2 separate regions of the Homo sapiens genome follow, and region 2 is linked to region 1. A link means that fine-mapping ties the variant in region 1 to the expression of a gene that starts in the linked region. Tissue or cell type: left ventricle. Region 1 holds a variant in brackets; the other region holds the start of a gene. All regions are shown on one strand. Distances are between the middles of the regions.

Region 1 (5,392 bases):
GTAATCCCAGCTACCCAGGAGGCTGAGAGAGGAGAATCGCTTGAACTTGGGAGGCGGAGGTTGCAGTGAGCCGAGATCGTGCCACTGCACTCCAGCCTGGGCAACAAAGAGCAAAACTCCGTCTAAAAAAAAAGGTGAAAAATAGTAACTTAGCTTAAAGATGATCTGCTGGTGGCCTCAGAGTTTGTTTTTAGCCAGAGAGTGCCTACAGGTTTTGAACACTATTTCATCTAGTATATCATTCATTGGGGTAGGCTTCCTAGTCATTAGTCCTATCTTACACAGCTGGCCAAACAGGTGCTGAAGGGCAATGTCAACAACAGAACCCAGGAATCCTGGTTCAGGTGTAAGTACCGTATCCACTCAGCAAGGCTCATAATTTAGATTTAATTAACAATGTGGACATCTGTTTAGAATAACAAGGTAGGAATTCAAAACCTAGCTGCTGGTTATTTACCCATTCAAGTGAAAACAGACAGAGGGAGGCACAGTTGCAAAAGACCTGATTTCCTTTTTAAAATTATCTTTCTTCTCTACCTACATGTAGCCAGATGTCATAGACTAAGTCAATAACTAAATTCCTCCTGAAGTGACTGGAACGCTGAGAAGGGACCGGTCTATCTCAGAGTCACTTTGGTGATGCTGGTGGGTGTGACATCTAGCAATCAGAACCCAGCCAATGACTCACAGGAGATCCCACCTGTACTTTGTTAGGGATGGTCTCCCCAAGGATAATAGAAACTGATTTTAAGATAAAAACAATAAAATTCTTCAATAAAAAGCACAAAATTCAGTCCAAGAGCAGGGGGCTTATGAAATGCACAAATTAAAGTATTAAGAATTAAAATAATTAAATTAAAAAGCTGAGGCCCCAGATTTCACCCTGATGGTTGAGGTGTCCAGCATTGGAACTGGCTGCACCATGGTTTTGGGACTCCATCAAGGACTGTGGCCAAAAACCTGTGTGGAATATTGTAGAAGGAATTTCTCCACATACAGTGCTCCACCCTCTACATCAGCTTGTTAAAAAGGAAGGCTCCTGGGCTTCGACCAGGAATACCGACTAGGAATGTCTCCAGGCGAGCCCAGGAATCTGCTGGTGACTCTTCACATGCTAAAGTTTGAGAACTGCCGGGTGACTGCCCTGCATGGTGAGCTTGATTGAACGCTGGCTAAGGTTTCTTTCCACCTGGGCAATCTCTAACTCTAGGAGTTGATCCAGGATACTTTCACTTCCTTCATCATTTTTGAAATGCTTGTTTTTCAAAAAGCCAAATTCTTCTTTGCATCCATGATTCCCACATTTAGCTTTCTCTGCATCTGGCCTAACCCCACCTATAAAACAGGCATAGGAACTGTATTTAATAAGCACCTCCTTCAATAACACAGATGAGCAAAATGCATTCCTCAGTGTGACCCGCATATTCCATTTCCTGCTCTGTCTTGCTTATTTCTAAGAAACAAGAGTATGATGAGAGAGCCATCCCAGCCTTGCAAACACATCTGTCACTGTCTTCTGGGTGTCAGAATGAGGAAAGGGGCACAGAAAGGAGGTTGCAGAGGACGGGTCAGGGCTGTCCAAGAAGGGAGGCAGCTGGGCAGCTGGTTACAGGTGCAGCTGGTGCCACATGGCAATCTGCCGGCGAGGGTTTTTGAGCATCTCCTCCCAGTGGCTGCGCTCAGAGCCCGAGGTGTGCAGGCCCAGGCTGCAGTGGCCAAGCGCACAGCTCTGCCCTGAATCGTCCTGGCCCAGCACTTCCAGCTCCACACTGGAGGCCTGCAGCAGGTCGTCAGGCAGCTCAAACATGATCATCTCGTTCCACACGGGGTTGATCTTGTGCTTAGCTCGTTTAGTCTGCTTCTTCTTCAGCTTCCGAGCCTGGTGCTTCAAGGTCACCTTGACAGAGACATCTGGGGAGGGGCAGAGGGGAAAAAGAGACAGAGAGAAGGGACAAGAGTGAGTTTCTGGGATCTGGCAGGGCCCAGGACAAAGCTCCCTCCTGGTGCTGGAAAGATGCTCAAGAGTTCGGACATCTGTGCCCCATATACCCAAACATCTTAGAGGCCTCAGTTTTTCCTTCTGGATACCCCAGCACAGGTCCCAAGTCTATGTGACCATAGAAGGCTCTGCTATACCAGCAGGAAAGCATCCCACCCGGACAATCTATAACTCTAGGAGTCGATCCAGGATGCTTTCATTTCCTTGCATTGGGGATTATTCTCCACTCCCCCACTAGGCCATGCATTCATTCAACAAATATTAAGTGCCTACCCTATGGCAGGCACTGGTCTAGAAGTGGGGATGCAGCAGAAGTTCTTGCCTCCATAGAACTGACACTAAAGTGTAGGAAACGGCCAATACCATGATATAGAAGGCTGGCCACTGGGTGGCCTGTGATTGGGGCATGTTAGAGTACCAAGAGGGAACCACCTTTGCTACATGACTTCATATCCTCACATCAAACCAGGTCCATGACAACAGCTCAGGGGTCCTGCAGCTGGATTTTAAACTCAGACCAGAAAAATGAAGCCAGCTCCCAACTCTTCATCCCCTTGATTCTTGGTGTAAGCATGTTTGTCTGTTATCAAAATAGGAGATCCCCTGCTGGTTGGTTGAGTTCTTCTCATCCGTACTTTTTAAAGTTTTATTTGAAGACCCCCAACTTCATGTGGAAGAGGGATGAAGGCAGACTGCCTGTTCCTGCACGCTCCCCCAAACCCAGGGCACTGCACCAAGAGAGCTGGCCCCAAGGAAATCCACAAACAGGTCACCAGGCGAGCTTTCATGTCACATCACAAGGCTGGACTGGATTACTTAGTCAATGTTTCCAAAGCTAATGTGAGAATAATTGTTACTTTGTATTTATTGCTGTAATTATCACCTCTGGGAGGTTAGTTTGTTATTTCTACAGAGAGAGTTGAGAGACGAAGTGTTGTACTGTAATTGTCCTGACAGGAGCTATAAAAGAGAGCAAGAAGCAAAGAATTGTCTAAAGGGAATGAGATAAAAGCATTGAACTTTGACCTTTGACTCAGGAACCTGCCAGCAAGACCAACTCTTCTGATTCCATTAGCCCCAAGTCTTTTGCTCGAAATTCAGAATGCAGTGGCAATTCTTTATTTGTACCCTGCTATAAATAGAGACTTATTTATATCTTGCTAGG[C/T]GCATGTGGCTTCCAGTCCAGGTATTATCTGGCTAGCTGAGGATGCTTTCCTGCTCATATAGGAGAGCTTGTTTTGGTCTCCGAGATGCTGGACCTGGGCTGGGGTATCCAGAAGGAAAAACTGAGGCTTCCAGGGTGTTGCAGAAAAGCTTATTTGGGTATATGGGGCACAGACGCCTGAAGCCTCAGGCCTCAGCCCATGTACCCACACACCTTCTGCCATCACCCACACTCAGCTGGTGTGAGGGTGGCAGTTGGCAAAGGCTGAGAAGAGAGAAGAGACTGGGGTGGGTGGCAGGAGTGCAGTGGTGGTGAGTTCAGACAGGAGGGGAATAACCTGGCCTTCCTGACATCTGCCTGAAAGGTGGGTCCAGCCAGGTGTGGGTGACAAGGGCTGGGCCAAGTTTTCCCGACAGCCCAGGCCCTTCACTCCACGGCTATAGTCTGACCCTTGGCTTCTTGTGCTCTGTGGTTAGGGCTGATGGTTCTCATAGTGGATCTCCAAGGTAGGGAACCCCAGGTAGCTCACACTGGGGTCCTAATGGATGGGATTGATCCAAGAGTAAATGGATGGGAACTCATAGAAGTGAGTGTGTCCTCGAAAATCAATTTGTGAACTTAGGGTGAAGAACACCGCTGAGCATGGCTCCGTAGATGTGCTCATATTCCACCTCCCTGCTTACCTGTGACCATTTCCTCCCAGGCACCACCTCCCTCAGCACACACTCCCGGTAGCTGGAGGGGCCTTGGCCATCCTCTCACATCTCACTCACCCTTCCCCAGGAGCTCCTTGGACTGGTTAGAGTGGAGGTTCTTGGCTTTAATCAGCACCACCAGGAGGCGGTTGGCAGCCGGGAGGTAGCTGATGGATAGTAGGACCTCTCCAGCTCCTGCAGATGGCTCCTGAAACAGAAAAGGAGATGCAGGAGGGGAGTCTCACCTGGGGACGCCTTCCAACCCATCAACAAATGCTGAAGCTGGAACCATGCTGGATTTGCATCCAACACGCATCCTTGAAACCATTTACCCGTCAATGCTGGGGTGTCCACCCTTGCAGAAGAGAGCAAGGCACAGAGGAATTCCATGCGGCATGCGCTTCAATAGCAGTTTCTTTGTTTGCCTCAAAATGTGATTTTTCATATACCATATACTCAAATCCAACATACAAAACAGAACAAAGAAAGGCTACTCAGAATGCAGCAGCGGGGAGGAGGCCAGAATTCCCCATTACCCTTCACCTTCTGCCACCCCCAAGCTCCTGGGACACCTCTGTCCTCTAGGGCCTCAGAGAACAGTTTCAGAATCCCTGCATGGACCCATCAGGTTCCTGGGGCAGCGGGAGAATTGTAATTCATTACTATGTTTGAAAAGATAGTTCTTTCCAGCTCCAGGAGGTTGCTTCATCAACAGAATGACAAGTAATGTCAATGAAGTGCTGGGGTGTATGATGGTAGATCATGCCCAGAGGCAACTGGCAATAACCACACCTTGAAGGAGGTGCTGATGCCCCTGTGAGGCATCCAAACAAACACATCTATCCCTGCACGCAGCTTTAGAGTAACTCTCCTGAAATTCGTACAGGAGTTTATTTGGAATTTCAACAAATCCGTCAAGGGACAAGAATGACCGAAAGACCCCTCCTAGGAGGTGGGTGTTTGGTTGCAATCCAAGCTCTGGGGAGACCTGGCAGGAAAGAGAAGGGAGTGTGTGGGCAGGGATCAGCTGAAGGTCAGAAGTCTCCTCTGTTGAGCAGGAAGAAGATGCCCTTCCCTCGAAATCCCAAGGAAGAGGCAGATGTGTGGCCTGCTGTGCCAAGATGGAGTGGGGAGTGGGAGTGGGGGAAGGCCCCATGGAAGCTTGTCCCTCCAGATGTCACAGCTTTCAGTCCTGTGGCCCTTCCCTCCAGCTTTGTCCCTCTTTCCCAGCTGTGCAATGAGGGTAATTCAATGAGGTCTGGTACCAGGCTGGAGCCCTGGCTAACAGCCACCGTGACTCCCTAAGCTTCCTCCCCTTCTGTCACACCCAGGATGTCTGTTCATCCATCCTGGACCAGGCACTCAGAAGGGTTGAAATCGGTTTTTCTTTGCTCACTGTGGCCTCTAGTGGATTCATTCATTCAGCAAGCATATGCAATGCACCTACTATATTCCAGATGCCATAATTAAAGCCATGAACTAAACAGAATCAGTCTCAAAGAAGCTTGCAGTCACATGGGGAAGACAGAAAGG
Region 2 (5,392 bases), 42 kb after region 1:
AGAATAACAGGAAGAGGGTGTTTTGTTTTATGTGTCAGTAGGCAAAATCCTCCCTGAGACTTTAAATGGAAAAAGACCTGAAGGATGAGAAGGAGCCATTTGTATGAAAGGCCAGAGAAAAATGAAGGGGCAGAAAAGGGCTTGGTGTTTTAAAAGAATGATCGTAAATCCAGGGAAGCCAAGACTGCTGATGAAGAAAGAAACTGGCATGAGCTTGGCTGGAGAGGCAGGCACCTTCCATGTTAAAGCAGGTGAGTGGGTGGAGAGGAGTGGCTAATAGTGTGGCCACCAGAATCAGACAAGCTCAGCTAGAGTCTGGCTCTAAAACTTCTCTAGCTGTGCAGCTCTAGGCAAGTCAGTTACCTTCTCTAAGCCTCAGTTTCCTCATCTTTAAGTTAGGATCATTCTATGGCTCCCTCACTGGGTCAAGAAACACATTAATTAGTGTACTCTGAACAGTGCGCCTGGCACACAGTGTATGCTATGTCATGGTTTGCTATGACCTCTTCCAAGCTCAGTGAGAAGTTGTGGAGGATTTGAAGCAGGGGAGAGACACAACCTGGTTTTTCTTTAACAGATGATCAGCCGTTCTGTGGGCTACTGGTCATCAATAAGACAAAGAGTTGGAAGAGACCCTAGAGGTCATTTACACCAACTAGTTTCCCAGTGGTTCTCTCTAGGAAGGGGAGGGGGCGGTGCCTGGAGAGACATCACTGAAAGGCAGAAGAGTGGCTGTTCCTCAAGTGTGTTGGGCAGGAAAGAAGGTTGAGAGGCGGCCGACCACGACTTGTGGAGAAGGACTCCCAACACCTGGCCAGTGGAAAGCCCACTATTCCCCTTTTCCAGATCGTCCCAAGTCCCACATTCTGCTGTGCAGCCGGCTCCTATTTAGCCACTGTCAATGTCACTGTTCTTGGATTATAAGTGCCTCAAGGACAGCAGCCATTTCCTTTCCACTCTCACTGTACAGTGACTGACACAGGCCCCACACAACTGGGTCCTCTGAGCTTTTGAATTATTGATTGGAAAAAGGAAGATGGAGTCACAGCATTTTAGTGCCACTCCTGGAACCATACAGTCTATAAGGGATCTAGAGGGCCTTTAGGAGGTCCTTTAAGTCATGCCCCTGCCCCAGGGCCATCCTTCCTCAAATCACTCTAGCAGGACTCTTTGCCTCCTGGTTCTCCAGAGAACATTCTGCATTCTGTACTTTGGAAATGCATCCTGGAGGTCACAGCCTATGCAGGGAAATCCTTCCAAACTGCTTCCCCAGACCCCTTCTGCTGCTCTTTACAATGGGAGCACGGGCTATTTCCTGCACGAAGGGGCTCTGGCCATGAGCAAATGCATGGGATAAAAGCCCTCCTGTCTCCAGGGACGTCTGCAGAGACATCTTGGGGGAGGCCATACCAACCCCCTCTGACTGGCTGGAGCTCAGAGCTGCTAGGGGGTGGGGAAGAGTCCTTCAGGTTCCTCCCGGATTCAGCTCTCTAGACCCCGCTAGCTAGCTTCCCAGCTCCTGCGGGACCGCGGCCACCTCCCCTCTGGCTTTGCAGGCATTACCTCTTCTCAGCTCTGGCAGGACTTGCCCTACCCTGGCTCCACAACCACCACCCATCTCCCTCTCACAGACCCCAGTCTTCTTCCCAATTCTGCAAACTCCTCATTCTCTGGTACCTCTCAGGGTCTTCCCTAACCCTGGCGATTCCCCTCCCAGCCTCCCTCTCCTCTTACCCTTCCCAGCCCTAATTCTTATCCAGGTCCCCTTTCCTGTCCCCTCCCTTTAGGTCTCGCTGCTGGCCCCCATTCTTCTCTCAGTCCCCACAAGCTCGCCGCTCCCTAATTCTCCTTCAGGTCTCGTCTCCCCCATCCCCTAGCCTCCCCCATCCCCCTACCTTTTTGACTCCTTGACCTGTCCTCCAACGCGTCTGCTGTCCCCTCCCCGCCAAGCTTTGTCGCGCAAAGATCCACGACCGCCTCCCACCCCAGTTCCCCCTCTGCAGCTGCCCGGCAACCCCGCCTTGCCCGGGAAGGGCCTGCGCGCCGCCCCCGCTCACCTGTTGTGCAGACCCGAGCAAGCTGGGCTTCGCCTTCTCCAGGTCGGGGTCCTGGTCCCGCGGCAGCAGCCCCTTCTTGGGGTGCATGTGCCGACACAGGCAGGTGACCCCGCACAACGCGAGGATGCTGGTGGCTGTGCCCAGCGTGGCGCCCAGCGCGATCACAGGCACCGACAGCACCATGGTGCCCGCTCCCGGCGAGGGGCTGGGTCCCGCAGCCGCTCACCTTCCCCGGGCCGGGCCCGCCTCCAGGCAGCTCCCGGGATCCGGGCGAGCCAGCAGCTCTCCCGCCGCCAGAGGGGCGGGGACGGAGGGAGGGAGGACGGCTGCGAGGACGTCAGAGGAGGCTGGACCCGCAGCCACGTCAACCGGCAACCCCCTCCCCGCCAACACGTGACCGGACCCCCACCCCAACAGGAGCCGGAGCCTTCCAGGTGGAAGGAGCCTTGGGGTTGTTTCAGGCCATTCTTAATGCTTTGTGTACAACAGGGGACAACTGGGCCCAAGAAGTGCTGGAGCTTGCGGAGGTCACACTGTGTTAGAGGACAAACCTGGGCTCCAACCAGATCTGCGACTCTAGGAGTCACTTTCCCAGACTACTAGCTCCTTGCTCACCCTTCTACCCCAGCAGCTGGCCAAGCTGGCTGTAAAATTGGGTCTTCCGGGAGCTTTTTCAAACACAAAGCTGGAGATTTCCCAGCTCCCCAACCTGGGAGATGGTTCTTACAGGGAAGAGGAACAGGCCACAGGTAGAGGGAACAGATGGGATGTTTGGGTTGAGGCTGTACCTGTGTCCTGCTGAAGATGGACAATACAGCTGCATCCCCTTAAGGGTTGCCCAAGAGTTCACCTTTATTACCTAATCAGCAGGTATTCGCACCTTTATATATAGTTGAGGAAGCCGAGGCTCAGAAGAGAGGTGCACAGGTAGAAAAATCATCACCCTGAACCCAAGCTTATGTTTGCAGATTCCAAGTCCACACTCAAACGGACTTGTCTTAGGAGGATAAAGAAGATAAAATGCAGCAGCTAGGAGTACACACTTGATTCAGAGAGGGTGAGCATAAAACTATGCTTAGAACAAGGGGAAATTAGAATTCCGGGCATGAGGACTGTCTTAGCTCAAGAAAACAGTGGCTTTTTAGTGTTCTTCATTATATGGAGTGTTGAATTTAATTCAGCAGATATTTGCTGTGGGTTGGCTGTGCTCTAGGTGTGCTGGGCATGTGTGAAAAGGGATGTAGGTGATTTCATCCACAACAGAGCTTTCACATTTCTATGAGCCAATGTCTCCTAAATCTATAGCCTCTCCAGCCAGACCTTTTCCTCTGAGCTGTAGCTGTGACCACCACCTGGGAACCCACCCGTCCTCCAGTTTTTCAGCTATCTACACTTGCATAAAAACCCACCGATGACTTACTGGCTTAGACCAGTTATTGTGTTACTTGTCATGATTTCATGGGTTGGCTGGGCTCAGTTGGGTGGTTTTCCTGCTCAACATGTTGTCTTCTGGGACTGCAGTCATCTAGGGGTTCAGCTGGACTGGGACATCAGCTCTCCAGACACCATTGCAGATGGTGCAATGGTGAACTCACGTGGTGAGCAGTAGGTGCTGGCTGCCACTGGGATCACAATGGGGCTGTCAGCTGGTGCATTTTGGTTGTCCTCTATGTCACCTCTCCATGGTGCTGGAGCTGCTCACAGCATGCTGGCTGGATTCTAAGAGGAATGAAGCAGAAGCTGCCAGTTGTCTTAAGGCCTGGGTTCAGAAATTCTAGAACACTATTTGATCAAAACAATAGTCTCCCTCTAGTTCTTTCCTTCAGTGACATCAAAAGGAGGTGTCCAAAATACAAAGCTGATCATGTCACTCACAGCTCTCAAAGGTTCTCCAAGAATAAACCCAAGAGACTCAACCTTTATCCAAATCCCTTTGTGATGTGGTCCCTGCTAAGCCTTCCAGACTCCTCTCTACACACTTCCCAATGTGCCCCTGAGCCTCAGCCACCCCATGGACTTGGGATTCCTTCAACAAGCTAACATCTTTAGAGTCTCCATGTTATCACCCATGGGTGCATATAGCAGGCACTCAGTAACCGTGGAATAATTCATATGATCATCTTATGCAGAATTTCCAGTGTTTTGAAGGAATCCCATTTGTGATATGAGCTCCATTTTAGTAAACTGACTTTTCCACAAGTATTTATTGTGTGCCTGCTGTATGCCAGGCACATTTTCCTACTGATCCCCATTTGCTGCAAACTGTAGAGCTGAAGCACTGCAGTCCCTGGTGACAGCCTTAGCAATCTCTCACATAAGAGCTGCCCTGGGAGGTTTTCTTGGCTCCGGGCCTGGCAATGCAAAATGTTTTGTGGAAATAGAGGTTTAATTAATGCTGTCAGCTCCAGGTCTCCCATGCTCAAACGGCTGCCCTGGGAGACCATCAATGCCACTACTCATAACAGGATCTGGGGTGGGGTTAAAGGGGAAGGATGAAGAACACTTAATATCAGAAAATGTCTGATGGGGAATCAGACACCTGTCACATGATCCATTGTTACTATGGTTACTGGGATGACAGCAGCTGCAGTGGCCTTCATTTATAACAGGAAGAGGGACCCCAGCCCAAGAAGAAGAGCTTGCCTTGTGCCTCTTTCACACACAGTGAACCTATGGCAGAGCTAGGAATAGACCCCAGGGGATCCAAAGCCCAGTTGAGTGATCAGGACTCTGGGCTACCTTTGCTACCCAACCAGTCACCCTCATATATCTCATCAAAGATACGATGTTTGCTTCTTGGCTACTGATATGCAGACAGTGGCCTTTAATGACAACCCACAGAAAAAAGGCATCACTAGGTTCCTTTGAAAAATGAGAGTATGCCTATTGGGAAAGGCAGTTAACTGAGTCAGCTGAGTGGATCAGTTAAGACAGTCTGAGGCTGGGACCCACAAATAATTGGAAGTGCTGAGGCCACATTTCTAAGAGCAGACAGAGCAAGATGCTTAGGAGGCATCTACGAGGCTGAGGGATGGATCTTTGAAGGTTCCCCAGCCTCTTGATGAAATGTTCCCATTGTTATTTTGATCAATATTGTACATGTTAGATGTTTAAATATTCTGAATAATCACTCTGAACTTCTAAGGTACTAAAATGCTTTTATCTGGAGAAAAGGATTTCAAATATAGGAGGTTCTCTTATTTAGCAAACATTTGTGGTGTCTACATATGGTGCTATGCAGGAGGGAGGAAAATATACCAGCGGAATAACTGAATTTTAACATTGCAACGATTTCAGATATCACCTGTGGAATCCTTTTATTTTACCAATAAGGA

Evidence for each region. PIP is the estimated chance that this variant, and not a neighbour inherited with it, causes the effect.
Region 2: SYT13 starts here. The variant in region 1 is fine-mapped to the expression of SYT13 in left ventricle (GTEx, PIP 0.98).

What each region holds. Positions count from the first base shown.
Region 1 is chr11:45,242,446-45,247,837 of GRCh38, forward strand. It overlaps SYT13 (synaptotagmin 13), which reads right to left. Exons shown (of 6, transcript NM_020826.3): 5 at 3,938-4,067; 6 at 1-1,911. The coding sequence ends at 1,607. Among named protein-coding and RNA genes, the nearest start is that of SYT13, 41 kb to the right of the region's middle. RefSeq lists an enhancer at 1,186-1,686. The variant C/T (reference allele first, on the strand shown) is at 3,165.
Region 2 is chr11:45,283,968-45,289,359 of GRCh38, forward strand. SYT13 (synaptotagmin 13) reads right to left here and starts at 2,374. Exons shown (of 6, transcript NM_020826.3): 1 at 2,058-2,374. The coding sequence starts at 2,240. RefSeq lists an enhancer at 1,769-2,555.